2 separate regions of the Homo sapiens genome follow, and region 1 is reported to be linked to region 2. The links are microRNA targets in miRTarBase. Many come from high-throughput screens and were not tested one by one. Region 2 holds a microRNA gene; the other region holds the end of a gene's coding sequence.

Region 1 (8,305 bases), not on the chromosome of region 2:
GGATTGTTTCTGACAGTCTTCCATGCTCTGGCAGGGCAGCTGGGCAGAAAGATGTTTCTTGATTTGTTTGGTTTGTCCTGTGATGAAAGAGGCCTGGTAGCTCAGCGTGCAGAGGCCAAAGGCCAGAGTTGAGCTCCCAAGTTGGGCCCTGCACCCAGGGGGAGCTGGAGTTAAATGAAGGAAACTTGAGAAAAACGACTCCTGGCAGAGGCACAGGGCCTATTAATAGGCTGGACAGCAGTGGAGAGGGACTGGACGCTGGAAGCACGATGGGGAAGGCTGGGTTTATTTCTGGGTCAGAATGTTGAGGGGCCTCACTGGAGGGAGTGATACGAATTCCCTCAATTTAGCCTACCAGCTCTTGTGCCCAAGCCCTCATAAGTGGCTTAAACAGAACGCCTGAACACACATGTCATAAATCAGCCACACGTGGAACATATCTAGCTGAGGCCTTCAAGTCCTCCCTTGCTTTTTCCATGCCTAGAACAGGATTCTCAGCCCAGAGAACCAGAGGAAATGGAAAAGGGGAGGGTGTCAAGTGAGAGAGGAATGCTACAGAGCTTTCAGAGGGGCTTTAAAGAGTTTTCTACTAGAGGAGAAGGATGGAGGATGGGCAGGGATCGTGGTCAGGGATTGACAGGCTGAGGGTATGAGGAATGGGGTTTGGCTTATGCAGGTGGGCCATTGCCAAGAGAGGCCAAAGCACTAACTCCATCTCCTTCTTGTTCTGTCTTGAACTAGCTGCCACCCGGGTTACCATGGAGAGAGGTGTCATGGGCTGAGCCTCCCAGTGGAAAATCGCTTATATACCTATGACCACACAACCATCCTGGCCGTGGTGGCTGTGGTGCTGTCATCTGTCTGTCTGCTGGTCATCGTGGGGCTTCTCATGTTTAGGTGAGTGTTGGGGTCCCCTGCAGGCTGTTTCTGCAAATCACTCCCTTTCTTCCTCCTCCTGGGCCCTCTCCTTGATGGTCACATGCACTTCCCTCAATCTTTCCAAATCATGGGCTAGCTCCGGGGTGTAGATTCTCCAAAAACCTGGTATTTCTGGCATGACATGAGTCCTGTGTCTAGAGCCCAGGGTCAAATTTGCGAGGCCATAGCAGGTTCTGCTCCTCACAGGAGTTCTTTTCCTGCCTCCATGACCCAGCTACCCACTCATGGAGTCACTTTGTCACACATTTCTTTCTCCTGGCTGTTCTTTGATGGCATTAGTATGTGGTTTGGTAGTCAAGGTGTGGGTGGTGCTAGTGGTATATCCTTCCACTTCTGAGGCGTCTGGACCTCAGGCCCTGCTTTCTAATCCAGGTATGCTCTAGCTTGGGAGACCCACCAAGCACTCTATGCCTGTTTTCTTTCTTTCTTTTTTTTTTTTTTTTTTTGAGACAGAGTCTTGCTCTGTCGCCCAGGCTGGAGTGCAGTGGTGTGATCTCGGCTCACTGCAAACTCCGCCTCCTGGGTTCACGCCATTCTCCTGCCTCAGCCTCCTGAGTAGCTGGGACTACAGGCACCCGCCACCACACCCAGCTAATTTTTTCTATTTTTTAGTAGAGACGGGGTTTCACCATGTTAGCCAGGATGGTCTCGATCTCCTGACCTCGTGATCTGCCCGCCTCGGCCTCCCAAAGTGCTGGGATTACAGGCATGAGCCACCGTGCCTAGCTCTATGCCTGTTTTCAAGCAGTGTAACTCATCTGTCATGAGACCTGGAACAAGTTACTGTCTTTCTGAGGATTGTAACCTTGTAGTGATTGTAATGTTTGTCCATCTACCTCATAAGGATGTTGTGAGGATCACGTAAATGAGGTGAAAGCTATTTGTAAATTGCATCCTGCTATTAGAGACAGGAGTTCCTCGGGGCAGTTGGGCCTTTGACCAGAGTTTGGGCTGCCCTACTGCCTGGGCTTTTCCAAGTAGTAGAGGAAACCACCATGGCAGAGTTCTTTGGAAGGACCTGCTCTGGACCTGCACTTTGTCATAGCAGGCAGGGCTTATTCACAAAACTTATCTTCCTCAGGTACCATAGGAGAGGAGGTTATGATGTGGAAAATGAAGAGAAAGTGAAGTTGGGCATGACTAATTCCCACTGAGAGAGACTTGTGCTCAAGGTAACGCTCCATCCTTTGCCCCATGACATGATTATCCTTTGTCCCCTTTCCTGGCTGTGCTTCAGTGGGTGCTGAATTCTTCATATAGGGGTTGGGGGCCAGGCTACTGTGACATTAATATCCCATTGCAGAATTATTTTCAAAAAGACTCAGTGCTTCACTTAAGGTAAAAGTTGCTAGAGAGACACCTAAGAGAGATGCCTGAGAGGACAGCTTCTCCCACCCTCATCCCCTCCCTTCCCCTCCCCTCTCCTCCCCTGGGAGACAGAGTGAAACCCTGTCTCAAAAAGTTTAAAAATAAAAAAGACTGGACCAGGAAAATCTTAAGACTTCTTTAGACTGGACCTGGCTTTACATGCCTTCCTTTTGTGCTTTAGGAATCGGCTGGGGACTGCTACCTCTGAGAAGACACAAGGTGATTTCAGACTGCAGAGGGGAAAGACTTCCATCTAGTCACAAAGACTCCTTCGTCCCCAGTTGCCGTCTAGGATTGGGCCTCCCATAATTGCTTTGCCAAAATACCAGAGCCTTCAAGTGCCAAACAGAGTATGTCCGATGGTATCTGGGTAAGAAGAAAGCAAAAGCAAGGGACCTTCATGCCCTTCTGATTCCCCTCCACCAAACCCCACTTCCCCTCATAAGTTTGTTTAAACACTTATCTTCTGGATTAGAATGCCGGTTAAATTCCATATGCTCCAGGATCTTTGACTGAAAAAAAAAAAGAAGAAGAAGAAGGAGAGCAAGAAGGAAAGATTTGTGAACTGGAAGAAAGCAACAAAGATTGAGAAGCCATGTACTCAAGTACCACCAAGGGATCTGCCATTGGGACCCTCCAGTGCTGGATTTGATGAGTTAACTGTGAAATACCACAAGCCTGAGAACTGAATTTTGGGACTTCTACCCAGATGGAAAAATAACAACTATTTTTGTTGTTGTTGTTTGTAAATGCCTCTTAAATTATATATTTATTTTATTCTATGTATGTTAATTTATTTAGTTTTTAACAATCTAACAATAATATTTCAAGTGCCTAGACTGTTACTTTGGCAATTTCCTGGCCCTCCACTCCTCATCCCCACAATCTGGCTTAGTGCCACCCACCTTTGCCACAAAGCTAGGATGGTTCTGTGACCCATCTGTAGTAATTTATTGTCTGTCTACATTTCTGCAGATCTTCCGTGGTCAGAGTGCCACTGCGGGAGCTCTGTATGGTCAGGATGTAGGGGTTAACTTGGTCAGAGCCACTCTATGAGTTGGACTTCAGTCTTGCCTAGGCGATTTTGTCTACCATTTGTGTTTTGAAAGCCCAAGGTGCTGATGTCAAAGTGTAACAGATATCAGTGTCTCCCCGTGTCCTCTCCCTGCCAAGTCTCAGAAGAGGTTGGGCTTCCATGCCTGTAGCTTTCCTGGTCCCTCACCCCCATGGCCCCAGGCCCACAGCGTGGGAACTCACTTTCCCTTGTGTCAAGACATTTCTCTAACTCCTGCCATTCTTCTGGTGCTACTCCATGCAGGGGTCAGTGCAGCAGAGGACAGTCTGGAGAAGGTATTAGCAAAGCAAAAGGCTGAGAAGGAACAGGGAACATTGGAGCTGACTGTTCTTGGTAACTGATTACCTGCCAATTGCTACCGAGAAGGTTGGAGGTGGGGAAGGCTTTGTATAATCCCACCCACCTCACCAAAACGATGAAGTTATGCTGTCATGGTCCTTTCTGGAAGTTTCTGGTGCCATTTCTGAACTGTTACAACTTGTATTTCCAAACCTGGTTCATATTTATACTTTGCAATCCAAATAAAGATAACCCTTATTCCATAGCCTTTTGTCTGTTTGTTTTAACCGGGAACTGGTTTAACTTAGTTATTTCCTAAGCCCTGACTTGGTGGTAGGCTCTATACCAGGCCTATTTATGTATACTACCACAACAATTCTGCGATGCAGGTACTATTACTGTCCCATTTTTCCAGAAGGGGAAACTGAGGCTCAAAGTGGTTGTGTAACTTGCCTGAGGATACACAGCTAGTAAATGACAGAGCTGGGACTAGTAGTCTGGCTCCAATTATTTTGTCTTAGTACTTATACCATGCTATCTCTGAGATAAGAAAGAACAGATCTTTCGCACAGCATGTTTAGCTGGCTGTAATCAGGGAAGATATCCACCCATTCAGTCAACAGGCCCTGGACTCAGGATCTACTCCTATGCTGCACATATGAGCAGGCATTGCTTCTGGCAAGAACAAGATGTCTTTGACTACCCTATCTTGCTCCACAGCCAATCCATCAGCAAATCTTGTCAGCCCTACCTTTAGAATACATGCTGTATGCAACCACTTCTCATCACTGCCACTACCATCACCCAGTCCAATTTCGCATCATCTCATGCCTGCACTTTTGTGATGGCCTCTGCCTTTCTAGTTCCATCTTGCTTCCATATAACATATTTCCAGTGTAATAGCCAGAGTGATCATGTCTTTCAGATCTTGTCTGCTCTGCAGGCCTTCCCTGACCACCGTATTAAACAACAGCACATTCCTTCTCCCATCCTACTCTTACTCTTCTTACATTGCTTTTTATCACCACTAACATATTCCTATTTGTTTATAGTCCATCTCCTCCTATGAAAATGTTAGCTCCATGAGGGTAGGGGTGTGTACATTGCTCCTCTCCTAGATTCTAAGACAATGCAATTGAGTGGTAGGCACTCAATATTTGTTACCTGGATGAATGAATGTAGGAAATACAATTCAGTCCAATGCCAGCAAGTGGACAGACATGCAATCCAATGCTGCCCTGAAAGTGTGATTGGATTAGAGAGGGGTCTCTGTTGGGGAATGTGGATGGTGGTGACAAAATGAAAGTGGAATTTGGGGCATGTCATGTGTCCTGGTGGATTGGACAGTCCATCAAGTGGACTGGGGCAGTGCAGTAGCACTGGACAAGTGCCACTGGGCTGCCCCTTCCTCATCCTCTTCCCTTGCAGAGTTGTGATATTCTGAAGTTTCTCCAGGAGCCCACACGGAGATCTTGTATATACTTGGAACATCCTTTCAAGACTTTAGGCACTAGTAACTATTGAAGCTGAACATATGCATACCCCAGGAGTAATTCCACTTCTGGGGATTCAAGAGAAATGAGTGCATATGTTCACCAGAAGATATGCACAAGAGGCTGGGCACTCTGGCTCAAGCCTGTAATCCCAGCACTTTAGGTGGCTGAGACAGGTGGATCATGAGGTCAGGAGTTCGAGACCAGCCTGGCCAGCATGGTGAGACCCCGTCTCTATTAAAAATACAAAAACTTAGCCAGTCATGGTGATATGTGGCTGTAGTCCCAGCTACTTTGGAGGCTGAGGCAGGAGAATTGCTTGAACCTGGCAGGTGGAGGTTGCAGTGAGTGGAGATCGCGCCATTGCACTCCAGCCTGGGCGACAGAGTGAGACTCCTTCTCAAAAAAAAAAAAAAAAAAAGATATGCACAACATTAATCCAAGCATTATTTATAATAACTAAAAACTGGAAACCATCCAAATACCCATCAGTATTTGATGATAAAAATGAATAAATTGGGGATATATCTATACAGTGAAGTACTAAATAGCAATAGGAATGAGTTGCAAAACATATTGCTCAGTGAAAGAAGCCAGATTCACAAAAAAGTATATACTGCGTGATTCCATTTACTTAAAATTTAAAAACAGGCAAAACTATGGTGAAAAAAAATCAGGAAAAAGACTCCCATCGTGATCAGTAAAGACTGGAAGAGAGGGACTTCTGGTGTTCTGATAAGTTGTGCCATGGTTGGGATGCGGGCTACACGAGCGTATTCACTTTGAGAAATTCACCAAATATGAATTTTTAGGGCCAGCTGTGGTGGGTCACATCTGTAATCTCAGCTCTTTGGAAGGCAGAGGCAGGAGGATCACTTGAGCCCAGGAGTTCAAGGCCAGCCTGGGCAACATGGTGAAACCCTGTTTCTACAAAAAATAAAAAAATTAGCCAGGCCAAGCGCGGTGGCCCACACCTGTAATCCCAGCACTTTGGGAGGCCGAGGCAGGTGGATCACCTAAGGTTAGGAGTTTGAGACCAGCCTGGCCAACATAGTGAAACCCCGTCTCTACTAAAAATACAAAAATTAGCCAGGCGTGGTGACAGACGCCTGTAATCCCAGCTACTTGGGAGGCTGAGGCAGGAGAATCTCTTGAACCTGGGAGACAGAAGTTTGCAGTGATCCGAGATCGCACCATTGCACTCCAGCCTGGGCAACAGAGTAAGATTCCATCTCAAAAAAAAAAAAAAAAAAAAAAAAAAATTAGCCAGGCATGATGGTGTGTGCTTGTAATCCCAGCTACTTGGGAGGCTGAGGCAGGAGGATCACTTCAGCCTAGGACGTTGAGGCTGCAGTGAGCTGTGTTGTACCACTGCACTCCAGCCTGGGTGACAGAGTGAGGCCCTGTCTAAAAAAAAAAAAAAAAAAAAAATTTAAAAACTTGAATAGGGAACTCCTTTGCTATTTGCATTGCATAAAGTTCTATGAAGTACCAATGTATTATCTGTGGTAATCAGAGAGAATAATAAAGACATCAGAAATAACTGGAGTAGTGAGTTACTTTGAACTCTCCTGGGGCTCCCTTTCCTGCTTCCAAGCTTTCAGTCTCAAGCTCTTGTCCTGAGCTGGGCTTTTCCAAGCACACTTTGTTTCTCCAGCTAATGTTTCCTGCAGGCTCAGGGCTTCCTGCCTTTCAACTGCTCGCTCCTCTACCCCTGTTTCTCATGGGAATTCCCTTCAGCAGAGGTCCTCTGGAGCTCCTCTGGGCATCTTCTTGGTTTATACAGTGGCCCTAGGAGCCTCTGAACCTGCAGCCATTTCTCAAGACGGGCTGTCAGAAGAAATCTGGCCCTCCCTGAGCACTAAAAAGCATCTACCTCTTCTCTCTGGGCTCCCCTTTCAGCCTCCTTTGAGAAACTTTCTTTTATAGTGTTCATAATAATCATTATTCGCTTAATAAACATTTAACATTTCATGGAATGCTCAGTATGTATCGCACACTGGGCTGCACACTTTACAGGCACTATCTCATTTACATCTCAACACAACTTACTGTATCCGTGTTATAGATGAGGAAAATTGAGAAGCAATTGAGAGATGTTAAATGTATGCCTAAGGAAAGTGGTAAAGGCAGAATGTAAACTCAAGGAGCCTAATTTTCAAACCTTCACTGTAAACACTAAGCTACATTCCTAAATGAGCTCTCTGTCCCACAGTTGTTTTCTCTTTTCCCATATCCAGAAATAATATGATGGAGAAATAATACTAACAGGAACTTAATGGCTGGACACAGTCGCTCACACCTGGATTCCTAGCACTTTGGGAGGCTGAGGCAGAATAATCACTTGAGGCCAGGAGTTCGAGGCCAGCCTGGGCAACATAGTGAGACCCTCATCTCTACCAGAAAAAAAAAAATGTAAACATTAGCCTGATGTGGTGGCATGTACCTGCAGTTCTAGCTACTTGGGAGGCTGAGGTGGGAGGATCCTTTGAGCCCAGGAGTTTGAGGTTGCAGTGAGCTATAATCACACTGCTGCACTCCAGCCTAGGCAACAGAGCAAGACCCTATCTCTTAAAAAAAAAAAAGAAAGAAAAAAAGAAAAAAGATCTTAGAGAGCAACTCCTTAGAGCTCAAGGGTTTCTGGGGCCAGAACAGTGGGTCATGTCTGTAATCCCAGCACTTTGGGAGGCTGAGGTGGGCAGATCATTTGAGGTCAGGAGTTTGAGACCAGGTTGGCCAACATGGTAAAACCCTGTCTCTACTAAAAATACAAAAATTAGCTGTGTGTGGTGCTGCACTCCTGTAATCCCAGGTACCTGAGAGGCTGAGGCAGGAGAATCACTTGAATTCGGGAGGCAGAGATTGCAGTGAGCCGAGATCGCACCACTGTAATCCAGTCTGGGTGACACAGCAAGACTCCATCTCAAAAAAAAAAGAGTTTCTTCTGTTGCCCCCAGTTAACAGATTCCTGAAAGGTGGCCCAAGAGGTCTTGTCAGGGGGAAGTGGAAGAAAACAGGAATGCAGACTGACCTAAACGTGTGGCTGAATCCAGCTCCCACTGTTATCAGGGAAGTGCCCTCACACGTGACACCTAACCTCTCTGAACCTGTCTCCCTGTCTATAAAATAGAGACACTAAAAATATTTACCT
Region 2 (8,305 bases):
CCACATGAGTTATTAACCTGAGAAATAATCGTTTTATTTATAAATGACTGAGTTGAAAGCTGATAGCCCACAGTAATTGCTTTCATGGCTTTGAATATAAACCTTACTGTTACAAAACACATTTTCATGAAAATGAATGTGTGGTGTTTGGAACTAGCTTTAATGTTTGTCTTCCTGTTTTTCCTTCTAGTTGCTATAATATAATAAGGAATTTTGTATGTTTTTCCTAATTGTACCCACTTTTCTACATTTTCTTAACAGATCTGGTGAATCTTCATTATTAAATATAATTATACATATAAATTATTGTTTAATAATAATATTAATTATTAAAAATAATATAAATTATTAAATATAAAGATACATATAATATTATCTGTTAATTTCTAAGTTAGGTGTGGGTTCTGAAGACTATTATATGAATGAACAAAAAGCTTGCATATTTGCGTGGAAGCTGAAAGTACGAAATTTTTAGATACCATTATACCAGTATCTAAAGAAAAAATTCAGTACCACATAGGTTTTTAAGTAGGAGCTGTATGATCATAGGTCATCCAGATGAAGGAAGGCTTCTGTACCAGACGTACAGAGGTAGACAGTGTTGTCTGAGTACTGTCTGAGATCTGGCAAGAATGAATCCAATAAACGTAGTTTTCTCCCATGAGCTCCTGTCTTGTTTCCTGTATTCTGTTTGTATTTGAAAAGATTTGGTGTGCATAACTTATTTTTGTCTTTTGGCTGTCAATCAAAGTTATTAGTGTAGTTTTTGTAACTCAGTTCTCAAGCTAGGAGTTTTTGCTGTATAATTTTAATGTTTCTGTTTTTACTTTCCTAAGCAGATAAGCGTAAAAACTTAGACTAATTGATTACTTATTAAACGTCCAGCTTGATATTCTTCTTTATATTATTTTAGTTTCAGTTTATATAACAAATGAGGTTTCTTATAAATAAAATTTAAAATGCACTAAAGGAGCTGTGTGAAATAGGAATTCTGTGTGAAGCTTTTGAATGTGAACATTTAGAACGTTTCACATGGTGGGAATTTACTATATGATTTTCATCAAATGAGGTACTTTTTAGTGTTGGTACTTAACGATACTGATTTCTAAAATTTGTATTTCTAAAAATGACGTATTACAGGATCTGAAAGGGCAAAAACTCATTGAGGCTTTGTATGAGTCAGCGTTTCATGGCCTATTTTTAATTAGTGAATTATTAGCATATAATTAGAAATGTTTTTAGATTCTTCATGGCTGACCTACCAATGAATGTAGCACTGCATTTAAAATATAGTTCACGTTATGTTCATATTTAATTGTTGCATTTTGTTTGCCCCTCTTGAAACGAAGGTCACATGTAAATAAATATACATTTTCTCCTACTGTAGGAAATACTCTGTTAGCATTAGTAGGTTTAGCTTTTTTAGGTTAACAATAACAAAAACAAAGCTCACACAAAATAAACCAAATTTGCTCTATGTCCCACAGATGTATCTTGTGATTTTTCCAGAAGGTACAAGGTATAATCCAGAGCAAACAAAAGTCCTTTCAGCTAGTCAGGCATTTGCTGCCCAACGTGGTAAGTAAAAATTTGAGTGTTTGAACAAATAATTTTCAAAGATAATAACATTTTTAGTTTTTCTTCCTGGAAAAGATACTTTTGTTTTACAGTTGAAGGAATGAATGTATTCATTCCTTGAATTAGTGTACATATTATCTCTTAGGAAATGAAGTTTCTTCTCCTTAATTCACTTTCATGCTATTATTACATATATCTGAGAAATTAAGTTGAAGTGCTTGTTACGATACATATTCTTGTGCCATGGATTTATTTAAAATCTATCTAAGTACATGATTATGTAGATGGAAGCTTTTTCTACAGTGTATGGGTTATATGTAATGGAGCTTCTGTTTTGTAAGATGACAGACCTAAGTTGGAGTCCAAACTCGTACTTTTATTAGCTGTATGGTTGCAACTTGGAAGTTGTGTAATGTTGCTGAGCTTGCTTCTTCATCTCTTAAAAGAACATATGCCTTATAAGTAGATCTAAATCTGTGTGAGGATTAGATTAGAAAATATGTCAAGTTTCTATTGGAGAAGTTACACAAAGTTGGTCCACAGTGCTTGGAAGCTGTTAATGTCTTCAACAATGGTAATGTTCTTAATATCCATATTTTAGAAAATTGAATAATTGGTACACCAATAAGCTATGCAATTTAACCAAATTGGGAAGTATACAGAAAACAGTGGCTATGCTATGTTCTTAGAGGTGTCTTTGAAGCTTGACTGTGATTTAGTGTGTGATCTCCATATGTTGATAGTCACTCACTGAGCAAATACCTTGTTGGTGACATTACAGCAGGGCCTATGACAGTGCTGTCTAATGGAACTTTCTGCAATAATGGTAAAGTTCTTCATCTGTTCTGTCCAGTGTGCTGGCTCCTACCAATGTGGTTTTTGAGCATTCAACATGTGACTAGTGCATGAAACTAATTTTTAATTTTATTTAATTTTAGTTTAATTAAAAATAAGGGGGAGTTTTTACAAGGTGCTTACAAGAGCAGATATGTCATAGGTATATGACATCATTTGTAACAGTACTTTTAAAAAATGCCAGTTTGTTTTTAAACACATGTCCTATTAAGTAAGGAGTGTTTCAGAATAGGAGGGTTCAGTTGGTCTCCCCATCTGCCAGCTCTCTTTTGACTTTCATTGCTTCCTCTGTCTAATAGACATGACGTTCTGTCATTTCAGTTGCTCTTTTGCAATGCCATTGTCTCTTTTGCCCTTTTCACATTTATTAAACAGAACAAAACAAAAACCACTCTCGAATCTGTAGTCTACCTTTGTTGTAAGCACTTTTTCCAGTACTCACTCTGCCCTCAATTTGTTTTGGTCTGATTTGAAATTCTCTCCCTAGACTTCTGTGGGGCTGTTCTCCATTATCCTCCCAACTCTCTGGCGATTACTTCCTAGCCTCCTTTCCAGCCTCTTTCTGCTTCATTTCTCCCTGCTACATGTGTTATTTCCAGTGTCAGGTTTTGGTGTTTGATTAATTTCACTTTTTGTTTCTCATGGTGGCCTTCCTCTAAATCCATGGCTTTAGCCATCGTTTCCTTGACTGCTGATGACTCGCAAAAGCTTCCTCCCCTCCATGTCTCTCTGCCTAACTCTGGACCCATTTGTACAATTGTCCATTAGAGAGCTTCGCTTGACTGGCCCAAAAGGATGTCTCAAACTCAGCATATTGAAGATAGAATTTATCCTTCCATGCATACACTCATATTTCTTGTCTTGGTAACTCCATCATTCAGTTTTTTTGCCTAAGTTTTATTCACAAAAAGAACAAATTGATAGCAGTTGCATACCTCTTATAGGAAACTTAGACATGGAGGAAGAAGCTGTTCAGATGGGGTCCTGCAGAAGTGCAGGCACTGTGGTAATATTTAAACTTTTCTCAGCTGTTCGAAGGGTTTTGTTTTAACTAATTTTCCTTAGACTTGTTTTAGGTATTTGGCTTTCTAATGGTTATAAGGGATGTGGAATTAAATGTATCTTAATCTGCCACCTGGACCCATTAAAGTAAGCCCCTATGGTGGTTTTTTTTTTTTAATTGCCATGGTTAAAACCATAGTTGCTAGCGAAGGTGACATACTTAAGCTTTTTGAACTCTCTTAAAAGAAAACAGAAATTTAATGATGTGTCTATAATGGCAAACCAGATACCTAGAATTTCCATGTTATTCATAGGGTGAATAACACTGGCGATTGTAGAGATTTGAGAGTTCTTTCAAAACAGGAGAACAAAGGGAATAAGCTACAAAGCAATTTTTTTCTTTGTAGACTTAACTGAATAAAAATTATTTTTATGTCTCAAACATCATATGAACAAATTTAGTTGGCAAATGGCAAGCTAATAATATTTTATAATATAGGATATTAATATACTTAATATTACAAAAGTGCTTCATAATTAGAAAAGACATAAACTAGAAAAATGGGAAAAGGGCATGAATAAGAAATTCAAGAGATACAAATGACCCACACACTTGAACAAATGTTTATTCTTTCTCATAATCAAAGAAGTAGAAATTAAATGAATACTTTGAAGCCAACTTCTGAGAAAGCATAGCAAACAAGAAAGCTAGTGCTCAGCTTTGTGTGGTAACGGCACTCTCGCTCTTAAGAAGGTGTGTTTGCTCCCTGTGGCTGCTCTCAGGCAGGGCCACAAACTTGGTGGCTTAAAACACCACAGATTTCTTCTCTTACATTTGAGAAGTCTGAAATGGGTCTTACTCAGCTGAAATCAAGGTGTTGGCAGGGCTGCAGTCCTTTGTGGAGGCTTGGGGGGATCTTGTTCTCCTGTACGGGGTCCTGTGCTTGGTTCGGGGTCCTGTGCTTGGTCTGGGATCCTGTGCTTGGTTCGAGGTCCTGTGCTGGGTCCAGTGCTCTGCTTTTACCACCTTGAAGTTCATCTGGAAATGGCACTGGCTCGCCCACACCATATAGCTGACTCTGGTTCTCCCTCCTCCTCACTCGCTCTAAACCTGTGTTTTTGGCTGATTTCTAATCTCTCTTTCCTTGGCCCTTCTGCAGCTTGCAGGGCCTTCTGCAGCTCTTGTCTGCCCCAGCCCCGGGGTCTGCCCATCCCAGTGCTGGGCTGTTCTGTTCCTGCCCTGCCTTTCCTCAGCCCTTGGCAACCCTGTTTGTTTTCTCCCTTCCTTAGCAGTGGAGAACATCGTAAGATCAATGCTGACTGCCTTCTGCAGCCAAGCCAGGCCATTTCATTTCAGCCGAGCCAAGTCTGTGTGGAGCAGTTCTTTTATTTTTCTCCTTTTGACTACCTCATGGTTTTCACGGATTTTTGTTCTCTTCACATTCAAGGATTTTTTGCTTTCAGAAAGTTATATTTCTCTGGAAAGAGTGCACCCAATATCCCTTTTGATTTCAAAATCTTAATGTGGAGTCTCTTGACTTGGATTTCTTTGGAAGAAACTGCTGAAGCTGCCATGTCTAAGAAGAAAACTTTGGAGAAAAATTTTCTTCTTAGACATGGCAACGTCAACAGTTTCTAAGCTCTTGATTCCGTCTACCCTGTCTCCATCGTTGCCTCAGTCATCTGCCTTACTTCTCTGCAGGGGTTTCTCCCAGCTTGCAAATGTACTCCAATTCTGAAATAACTAAGTCTATAGCTGTGCAAAGAGAAGTCTGGGCCCCTTGCTTTCTTGTGTTTGACTCCATCCACTCTCCAGAAATGAATCCCACTTCTCACTTAACCACTGACCTCCAAAGCATCGTATCATTTGTGTCAGTTGTCATATTTGTTAACTTTCACATAACTTTTGACATTATTTATACCTTTATAACCAGGAAATAATTTTAACTTTATTGTAGAAATAAACAATGGAGTATAATTTTTCTTGTTGAAGATAAATATCACCTCCTCTTCCTTTAAACATCTCTTCCCTTTGTTTTTGTATTACATTGGTTTCCCCCCTTTTTTTATTTCCTGGGTTGTCGTATTCCCTGTTATTATTTTTACCTTTTTTTTTTTAATGTGGATGTTTCCGGAGTCTGTATTTCTTGCCTTTTCATCTTCTGCCCTTTATTATTCTCAGCCACTGCCATTACTTCAGTTATCCATTCCCATGGTTTCCACATGCTTAGCTTCGGTTGATTCTTGCCATTTTACAGACCATATTTCCAACTACTTCTAGAATGTTTTGTTCCTTCAGCCTCAGTATGCCCAATTTGAACTCATGTTCTCTCTCCCCCTTCTTTCTTCCTTCTTTCTTTCGCTCTCTCTCCCTTCCTTCTTTTCTTTCCCTCCCTCCCTTTCTTCCTTCCCTCACTCGTTCTCTCTTGCTTGCTTGCTTTCTCTCCTCTCTCTCTTTTCTTTCTGCATTCTTCTCCCTCCCTCTCTTCCTTCTCTCCCCCACTCCCCAACTTCCAGGCTAAAGCAGTCCTCCTGAGTAGTTAGGACTACAGACATACACGTGCCACCGCGCCCGGCTCCGTGTTCTCTTTGTTTCCCTGCCTCCTGCTCTTCCACTTATCTTTGCATGGCAGGTGGGTGCACGCAGGCATGCTCTGCATGTCTTCCTCTTGGCCATTCCCCTTCTAGTTATGGTGTGGCTTTATCTACGCGTTCTGGAGCAGAAGCCTAGTCACAAAGCTATTTTTTTAAAACATTCATGATAATTCATTTCCTTTTATGTTTTAAAAATACTAGCTTTCTGTCTTTATTTCCTTACTAACTTACTTGGATGCCAGTAATTAGTTGTTTTAGTGAACACCACAGAGTGATATTTTGAAACTTTGGACTTCATAAAGTTGGATGAGCTCCAGTAGCAAAGAAGGAAGTGTTAACTAGTTTAACTGACAAATAAATGCTTCCCAGCTTGGTGTGCGATTGAGATTTTTGTTGCAAGTTTGTGAATCAATTTAACTGCCCCTGCCCTGGGGACTAAAGTCAGATACGTGCTTGTGGGAATCTTTGTCTTTCCCACACCACCCTGCATTTTAAAACCTCTTGTGTGGGACAGTCCCACCATGTAATAGCTGTTCTTCCTTACTCAGCTACTTTCCCTCCAGAGAGGCCAGTAGAAAATCTAGACTAGTTTTTTATAGTCTATTTTCATGTCACTTATTGAGAGCTACTGTTTTCTGTTAAATTGTCAGTAAATATTTTAATCAAGGAAAAGGGAGGTAATAGGAAGGAGAGAAGAACAAATCCTTAACCCTAGTAGGAACCTAATGAATGGGATTTGTTCTGGATAATTGCAGTAGTCCCCCAGCTAAAGAACCTTTTAAAAATATGTCAGATATACCCAAGAGGATTGAAATCGTATGTTCATACAAAAGCTTGTTCACCTGCAGCCTTCATATGCAATTCCTATGAATGTTCATAGCAGCATTATTCATAATAGCCAAAGTATGGATGCAACCCAAATGTCCATGAAGCAATTAATAGGTAAACAAAATGTGATCTGTTCACACAGTGGAATACTAACTATTCAGCCATAAAAAGGAATGAAGCACTGAGTCCTGCAGCCACACAGATGAACCTCAGATCCATGCTGAGCGAAAGAAGCCAGAAACAGGAGGCCATGTGCTGTGTGACTGTATTTCTAGGAAATCTTGAGTCACCATGGGCAAGATGCTATCACCTTTGTTCAGTGGCCAGAAGCGAGGGCACTAATATTTACCCTTGCCGGGGTCTACTAGATTGAAGCGTTTCCGCTAGGCCATAAACTTCCAACACGGTGACTTGTACATGTAGATATTTGATCAATATATAGCAAATGAATATTGATTTAAACAGAAAAAGGCAAGTGAGAGTGCTTTCTAAACTTAGAGCCCTAAATATATGAGGTTGTGGAATTAATAGATTCTGTTGTGTGTGTTTGAGGGAATTTAAAAATAATTTAGATGTTAAACAGTATATTGTGGAGGTGTTTTGTAACTAATTAATGACGGCACTGAATTGACTTCTAGGCCTTGCAGTATTAAAACATGTGCTAACACCACGAATAAAGGCAACTCACGTTGCTTTTGATTGCATGAAGAATTATTTAGATGCAATTTATGATGTTACGGTGGTTTATGAAGGGAAAGACGATGGAGGGCAGCGAAGAGAGTCACCGACCATGACGGGTAAGTGTGTTCACGCACCTGAAATGCCTGTACACGGTATATACAGTGCACATGTTTATGTAGAATTCAGTTTTACAAAGTAGGTTAAGTGTACTTTTTTCCTTCATTACATTTACCCGGTATATTTTTCAAGATGTTATTAAGATGTAACAGTGGAGATTTCATTAGTCCTGCAAAGTGTGGTATTTCTTGGCTGTCGTGTGAGTCCTGTGGACTCACCAATTATCATTAATCCAGCCTCTTTCTACTCAAAGTTCACACTTAAAAGGAAAGCTCTGTAAAAGGGAGGAAGACGTGAAGAAGGAGCACGCCCGGCAGTACTGAGTGCACGTTATTAGTCAGTGCTGCCCTTTTGCTGTATTTTTCGTAAAATATTTATTAAATTTGGGTGTCATTGTGACAAGAAGAAATGCAGTTAAGTGTGACCTTTTTTTTTCCCCAAACATGTTAGGTTTTAAGAACCTTTGAGCTATTGTCAGATATAACCAGAAAAAAATAGAATTTTAAGTGAGCAGGATAACTTAGTTAAACTAACCAAACATAGTGTTAGCTGTTAGAGAAATGTAAACATGGAAATAGGCAAACAGGGAAGTGTGTGGAGTTTCTGTTTCCTTTTCAAAATATCTGTTTGAGCTGGGGTTGAGAGAGAA

What was found. Region 2 holds the annotated microRNA hsa-miR-4659b-3p (UUUCUUCUUAGACAUGGCAGCU, at 5,002-5,023, opposite strand). A microRNA usually pairs through its seed, bases 2 to 8, with sites in the 3' UTR of a target mRNA and lowers its output. Matches are read on the target gene's strand: a 7mer-m8 pairs with bases 2 to 8, a 7mer-A1 pairs with bases 2 to 7 and ends in A, and an 8mer does both.
Region 1: the mRNA of HBEGF is a reported target of hsa-miR-4659b-3p. Seed matches in the 3' UTR shown: 8mer at 2,681-2,688, 7mer-m8 at 2,833-2,839, 7mer-m8 at 2,836-2,842, 7mer-m8 at 2,839-2,845 and 7mer-A1 at 2,876-2,882.

Annotation. Positions count from the first base shown.
Region 1 is chr5:140,328,464-140,336,768 of GRCh38, reverse strand. It overlaps HBEGF (heparin binding EGF like growth factor), which reads left to right. Exons shown (of 6, transcript NM_001945.3): 4 at 742-897; 5 at 2,021-2,111; 6 at 2,489-3,926. The coding sequence ends at 2,093. Among named protein-coding and RNA genes, the nearest start is that of HBEGF, 14 kb to the left of the region's middle.
Region 2 is chr8:6,740,174-6,748,478 of GRCh38, forward strand. MIR4659B (microRNA 4659b) reads right to left here and starts at 5,067; the gene lies at 4,995-5,067. It overlaps AGPAT5 (1-acylglycerol-3-phosphate O-acyltransferase 5), which reads left to right. Exons shown (of 8, transcript NM_018361.5): 5 at 1,488-1,578; 6 at 7,497-7,655. MIR4659A (microRNA 4659a) reads left to right here and starts at 4,991; the gene lies at 4,991-5,071. RefSeq lists enhancers at 4,282-4,561, 4,592-4,671, 6,284-6,333, 6,935-7,229, 8,152-8,301 and a silencer at 6,094-6,143.